Linked DNA regions of Homo sapiens: region 2 is reported to be linked to region 1. The links are microRNA targets in miRTarBase. Many come from high-throughput screens and were not tested one by one. Region 1 holds a microRNA gene; the other region holds the end of a gene's coding sequence.

What was found. Region 1 holds the annotated microRNA hsa-miR-4716-5p (UCCAUGUUUCCUUCCCCCUUCU, at 1,222-1,243, opposite strand). A microRNA usually pairs through its seed, bases 2 to 8, with sites in the 3' UTR of a target mRNA and lowers its output. Matches are read on the target gene's strand: a 7mer-m8 pairs with bases 2 to 8, a 7mer-A1 pairs with bases 2 to 7 and ends in A, and an 8mer does both.
Region 2: miRTarBase lists ICA1L as a target of hsa-miR-4716-5p. Seed matches in the 3' UTR shown: 7mer-m8 at 1,757-1,763 and 7mer-m8 at 2,586-2,592.

What each region holds. Positions count from the first base shown.
Region 1 is chr15:49,167,900-49,171,312 of GRCh38, forward strand. It overlaps MIR4716 (microRNA 4716), which reads right to left and starts at 1,254; the gene lies at 1,171-1,254. GALK2 (galactokinase 2) reads left to right here and starts at 2,348. Exons shown (of 10, transcript NM_002044.4): 1 at 2,348-2,476. The coding sequence starts at 2,424. RefSeq lists enhancers at 1,760-2,664, 2,296-2,535.
Region 2 is chr2:202,776,436-202,779,842 of GRCh38, reverse strand. ICA1L (islet cell autoantigen 1 like) reads left to right here. Exons shown (of 13, transcript NM_001288622.3): 13 at 195-3,407. The coding sequence ends at 310. Among named protein-coding and RNA genes, the nearest start is that of ICA1L, 94 kb to the left of the region's middle.

The DNA.
Region 1 (3,413 bases):
TTTAAGAGTAATCCTTTATGAAAATTATAATGTACACATTTTATTTTGGGACAAGGATTCTAATCATTTCAATAATTTATTTTTAAGCACAGTTTACTGGGGTCTCAACAAAAGTCACATATTCAGAAGTAGTATGGCCTCTAGGCTAGGAGTCTAGAGACCTAGGTTTTAGTTCTAGCTCTGTTAATCCTGTTTTACTTTGTGCCAATCATTTCAAAAAAGGATGCTTTACTAATTGCTCTGTAAGGTGCTTTCTAGTCTGCATCGGTTTTGTTGAGACTGCAATAGCAATGTATCCAAGGTCCAAACTAATGATTTGCCATCTGGTTTCATTTAGCAAAGTTAATGTTCGGTCATCAAGTACATATTCAGTAGGAAGTATTCTTTTTCGAAACAGTTTCTACAGTCATTTTTTTTTAACCCTGTATAAAATGAGTTTATTTTGGACTGTTAAAAAAATTCAAAACTTTAAAATTTGTTATTTTTCAACTAATGCAAAAGAATATATTAGAAACATCTGAATAAAAAATGATTCTGGGCTGGGCACGGTGGCTCACACCTTTAATCCCAGAATTTTGGAAGGCCGAGGTGGGCTGATCACCTGAGGTCAGGAGCTCGAGACCAGCCTGCCCAGCATGGTGAAACCCCGTCTTTACTAAAAATACAAAAATTAGCTGGTGTGGTGGCGGCTGCCTGTATTCCCAGCTACTTGGGAGGCTGAGACGGGAGAATCGTTTGAACCTGGGAGGTGGAGGTTGTAGTGAACAGAGATCATGCCATTGCACTCCAGCCTGGGCAACAAAGAGCGAAACTCCATCTAAAAAAAAAAAAAAAGATTCTGTTCTTTTCTGTATTTACTGATGTCCCTAAACATTTTACATTTTTTTTTAAAATTTAGGTTATCTCCCTATTAAAACTATTTACAAGTGACAGTGATGACTCCTGTTACTCAAAATTAAACCAAAATGAACATCAAACTGGGATTTATTGGGGCCCAGAAACAAGAAGATATAATTCATTCATTTGAAAATGATAAAGAGGGACTGAAATAATAGTGAGAAAGCTGCCCTGAGACCAGAGTAACTTTGTTTCTTTGATGTATCATTTACAGTAATAACCCAACGGGGTGCCAAGGGGCTGCCACTCTTTGGCTATGCTTTATTGTCCATTCACACTTTGTCTCCATGTTTCCTTCCCCCTTCCTCCTGTATACATGTATACAGAAGGGGGAAGGAAACATGGAGACAAAGTATGCATATACATATAGAAATTCTGGAGCAGTAACTTACTGATGTATACAACTTATCGAATCTCTCTGAGTTATGCTACTACCCCTAGTGTGTTGGGCATGTTGGCTCAAACTTCCTTAATCAGGAAACTTTGGAATGGGTTTATTGCTAGCTGTCTTTGCTTGGGTTTAATCTCAATATTTCTGAGGTGCAAAGTGCACTAGATTGAGAGTTAATAGATCTGAATTTTAATTCCAGTTTTGTTCCCAATGATCACTGTGACCTCAGGCACATCATTTCACCTTTCGTCGTTCATTCAGTTTATCTTACCTATTCATTAAAAACCAATCTGCCTGCCCCCAGTTGCTTTCTAGTGGTAGTGATGATGGAGGTGGTGAGAGACACAATAAATACATAAGCAAATAGGAGAACTATGAAGGAAGGAAAAGTTAGTGATGTACTAGGGATAGTGTACTTTTGATAGGGCATCTAGGATTTCTCTAGATAAGTGAAAAATGAAGAGGTTTAACTGGATGCTAAGGGGTCTTGCACATTAAAAGGCATGTGTTTCCGTCTTTTCACTACTGTGTTCTAGGAAGGCCCACCAATGCCTCTAACCTGTAAATAAATGCAAATCTATTTAAATCAAGTGATACATCAATTTTATGTTGCTTGATTTGGAAGTAATCCGCAAAGAAGCAATAGCTAAACATTTTAGTGTTGTTTGGGGAGTAGCTGCTGAACAATAAAGACCAAAACCATAACTAAAAAACAAACAAACAAACAAAAAAACGCAGCCCGAGACAGATCAGAAACTAGGTGTATGTAGGGCGCCAGGTTATGACACTGTTCTCTGACATCCACAGGGCGCAAAAAGAAAACCTCACTAGTCAGCTTCGCACGTGCTCTGCGCAGGGGCTCCTGCGAGGCCCTAGTCCCTCCCTGGGAGCTAAGAGCAGGACGGAGGCTGTACCTGACTGCTGCTTGGAGGGAACCCTGGCTGAGTCCAGGGAGGAGGAGCCAGAGGAGGGGCCGATTGGAAGCAGCCACCTCAGCGAAGCTGCAGGATTTCCGCAGGGCGGGAGCTGTTTATCTCCCGGAAGAAAACGGCTCCTGTCACAGAAGTCTCGTGATTGCTCTGGGAGCTTTGCTTAGACACTTGAAACTACAGGAGAAAGAAGGATCTAGCGAAATATGGCTACAGAGAGCCCTGCTACGCGTCGGGTCCAGGTGGCAGAACATCCTAGGTGGGGGAGAGGAGACGCCGGGCTTTGGGATCTGCTGGGTTGGCTACGTGTAGATCGGGTCCACAGCACTTGGCTCCTCCCTTGGGGCGCTGCTTTTGGTCCCGGGGAGCAAGTGGAACCCTTGGGATTCTATAAGGACACGTGGCTGGGCTTGCAAAAAAGATCACGCCGCAAACACATTCTACCTTGACTACTACGAAGGGTTGTATGTTTTTTTCTTCATCCATGCAGATTCTTCTTTTCCTTTTCTTGTTGTAATTAGTGTACTCTTTCTACTGGGCTTCAGCAGAAATGCCCATATCCACACTGAACTCCTCTCTTTGTCTCGCATGCCAGTTGATACTGCTTTTTAAAAGTCTTCTTTCTAAATATTAATTGAAAACAAACACAAAAACCTTCTTGGTGTCTGCATCCTCTTTAAAACAAAACAAAACAAAAACACGAGAATCTCTGAACTGTCACTTAGGGAATTAATTTGCTGGCAGTCCCTAGCTACACAGTAACTAATAGTTTAGTGATGTCTCGGGGAGGATCTTTTCAGTTACAGGTACTTTGTAGAAATACTTCGTTCTGACTAATGGGGCTGAGGTCTCATAAAATGAAGTCTGTCACCTGCTACATTAGCGAAGGGCTTTCCTGACTCTCTGCTTTTGCTGTTTTTCTTTTCTTTTCTTTCTTCCTTCCTTTCTTTTTTCTTTTTCTTTTTCTTTTTTTTTTTTTTTTTGAGACGGAGTTTTGCTCTTGTTGCCCAGGCTGGAGTGCAGTGGCGCCATCTTGGCTCACCGCAACCTCCGCCTCCCAGGTTCAAGCGATTCTCCTGTCTCAGCCTCCTGAGTAGGTGGGATTACAGGCAGGCGTCACCACACCCGGCTAATTTTGTATTTTCATCAGAGATGGGGTTTCTCTATGTTGGTCAGGCTGGTCTCGAGCTCCTGAG
Region 2 (3,407 bases), not on the chromosome of region 1:
GGAAACCCCAGTCTCTACCGAAAACAAAAAAAAAAAAAAAAAATCTTAAAGGGACTATAGTTGATAGATTATTGTCAGTTATCTTAATTTTTTCTTAATCCAAAAGAAGCACCTACTTCAAAATCATAAATATGGTACAAAAACATGATTTCAAAACTGAATCTCTTTAATGTATTTTTTTTCTTTTTTAATAGCCCCCAACAATGGCAACCAAGACATGTCAGCCTGGTTCAATCTGTTTGCAGACTTGGATCCACTTTCAAACCCAGATGCTATTGGACACTCAGATGATGAACTTCTTAATGCTTGACTGAAGTTATAATGTCACTTCAGTGGCCTTGAGACATCAATTTTGCAACGTATTTCCTTCGTGGAAAGGATTTAGATTGTAACCCGCACACAAAAGCACGGTGTTTGTGAATATAACACCTGTCAGCCAACTTTAGACAGATGGTAAAGACCACATTTGAATAAGTACACATCTTTCATATCTTGGATTTGCAGCTGTTGGTACTATGTGGAAAATATTAGAAACTTCTATGTGGAAAATATTAGAAACTACAGAGTTTGCGATATTTAGATACTGAAATTTATGTCAAAATAACGGCTAGGAATAATTCTGTCAATATGGAGTTGAGCTTATTTCTTTGGAAACCCTTTTAAGTTGCCTTGCTGGCTGTGAGAATTTTATATGTGGATAACAAAGATAGATAGATAGCATGTAAATTGGGTTGTGGTTTGGGGTCAGTTTTTAAATGAAATAGTAGCGAGGAGGATTTTCTGTTTTGGAAAACACCATTAGAACCAGACCAGCTTTGTTTTGGGTTAGAGAGAGTAAGATTTGAGAACTCAGTTTGCTTTAATGAAATCACAGAGAAACTTGGTACTTGTTTTTCTTCATTTGGAGGCTAAAATGTAATGTTTTTTCATTCATACAAAATAATGGACACTCCCTAATTCCATTATTAAATCTTGAAGGGGAAGTAGCAGGATAATTAATTTGCTAAGCCCATCCTCTGCAGAAACAGAAAAATCTATCTTCCCATCTCCTAAAACTCAGAATGCACAGTAATACTTAAGGCTTGTACAAGTGTCTTCAGACCCACTTTTTCATACACTTGCTATATAGTAGTATGCAGTATTTATATTATTCCTGAAAATAAAATGAGGGGAGAATATTCCCTAAGCAACTGGCAATAGTATTCCTGAAATACCTAGAAATTTCTATCTGAATGAGGGAGACACTTATGAACACCTTATCCTTACATATATTTGCATACTTATCTCATATTTTGTGACATAATTATTTAACCCAGAATACTTTCTGGCAGACATACAGAAAGCTCTGTGTGATCAATAAGGGAGTGTCTCATTTTTCTACTTCCCTCTTTCTGTGGGTGACATGATCTGAGGTTCTATTTGATTACTAAGCAAAATCTGTTACCCCTACAGGGTTTAGAACCTAAGTATTAGAGAGGAAGGCTATTTAATGGAAGTTAGTGTAAGCTGATAAAAACGTAGCTACCGTACACACACATCAATCACTCAATTTCCTGTCCTTTTAAATTGCCCACCCTTTAATTTTGAAGCAATTTCCCAAGTGTGTGTTTGTTTTATATTTGTCATCCAGTCCATTGCATTTCCATAAGAAGACATTTTGACTGGCTGGGTGCGGTGGCTCACGCTTGTAATCCCAGCACTTTGGGAGGCTGAGGCAGGCGGATCACGAGGTCAGGAGATGGAGACCATCCTGGCTAACATGGTGAAACCCCGTCTCTACTAAAAATACAAAAAATTAGCCAGGCGTGGTGGCACGTGCCTGTAGTCCCAGCTACTCCGGAGGCTGAGGCAGGAGAATGGCGTGAACCCGGGAGGCGGAGCTTGCAGTGAGCTGAGATGGCGCCACTGCACTCCAGCCTAGGCAACAGAGCAAGACTCCGTCTCAAAAAAAAAAAAAAAAAAAAAAGACATTTTAACTAAGTTATTCACAGTAGCTTCCATGTGCTCTTAGTTCTATTCTAAACAGGCTTATTTAGAAAAGGATTGCTTGTAATGTTTGTCATGGTACATAGAAAACATTGGACCAGAGTAGGTAAAATGCAGTCCATGTCCCATCCATAGCCATCTACAATAGTAACTGCCCACAGGCTCTCCAGAAAACTACTACAATGGCCAAGTACAGTATAGGCTGGAAAGACCTTATCTGAAGGTCAGAAACATTGACTCAGAAAAAAGGTATGAAGTCTTTCCATAAAATCTTTTCACAATATTACTCCTATTTCTTTTAGATTTTAATGAGCCATTACTTATCTCTTCAGAAGACTTAAGTCTTCCTTTATACTCAGTGAAATTTCCCAGAATGTAATACTGTCACTGTTCTGCCAAGTTCCAATCACCAAGATCATGATTACGAATCCCAATCTGAATTCTATACCCATGGTGACTCTGATGCTCTCAACTTTTGAGTGCCTCAAAAAATGCTAAAACTTTGGCTGGGCATGGTGGCTCACGCCTGTAATCCCAGCACTTTGGGAGGCCATGGCGGGTGGAACATTTGAGGGCATGAGTTCGAGACCAGCCTGGCCAACATGGTGAAACCCTGTCTCTACTAAAAATACAAAAATTAGCCAGGTGTGGAGGTACATGCCTGTAATCCCAGCTACTCAGGAGGCTGAGGCAGAAGAATTGCTTGAACCCAGGCGGCAGAGGTTGCAGTGAGTCGAGATTGCACCACTACACTCCAGCCTGGGCAACAGAGAGCGACTCTCTCAAAAAAAAAAAAAAAAAAAAAAAAAAAAGCTAACTTTATGTCTTGAGAGTTTGTACCATTTTTCTTTGTAGTGGTCACCTTGCTAATGCATTAGTTCTGAGATATTTATCTCCCTCACATGTGTGCAAGGAAGTCCCTGTTATCGAATACAGATACTTTAACAAGCAGACAAAGCAGAAACCCAAAGTCCATACTAGGAACACCCTAAATTTTCCAAAAGCAAAAGTTCTCCCGAAATGGAGACATACAAGGGACTTTTATTATTCTGTTACTAGTTTCTATAACATTTCTTCTTTCAACAGAGTATATGTTTCCCATTTAACCCAGAGCAACATTAACTTCCTTAGCAAGTCCAGTTCTAACTTCCAACAAGTCCAACCACTGTTTTTGAAGAGCATATCAGTAACTATATTAAGATGAAGGTAACCACATTCGTATTTTCTCAAGATTAGTTATTTGAAGCTCAGCAGTTTTTGTGGTCAGAAAGAAATTTTGCTCTATTAAACCAATACTGCTAATATAAAAAACCACCACACTGAAGAAACGAGGGAAAGGACGGGATAAGCACAGAACAGAGAATGACTGGTTGCTTTTTGTCTCAATCTAGATAATCCATTCAATAAGAAGTAAATTAATT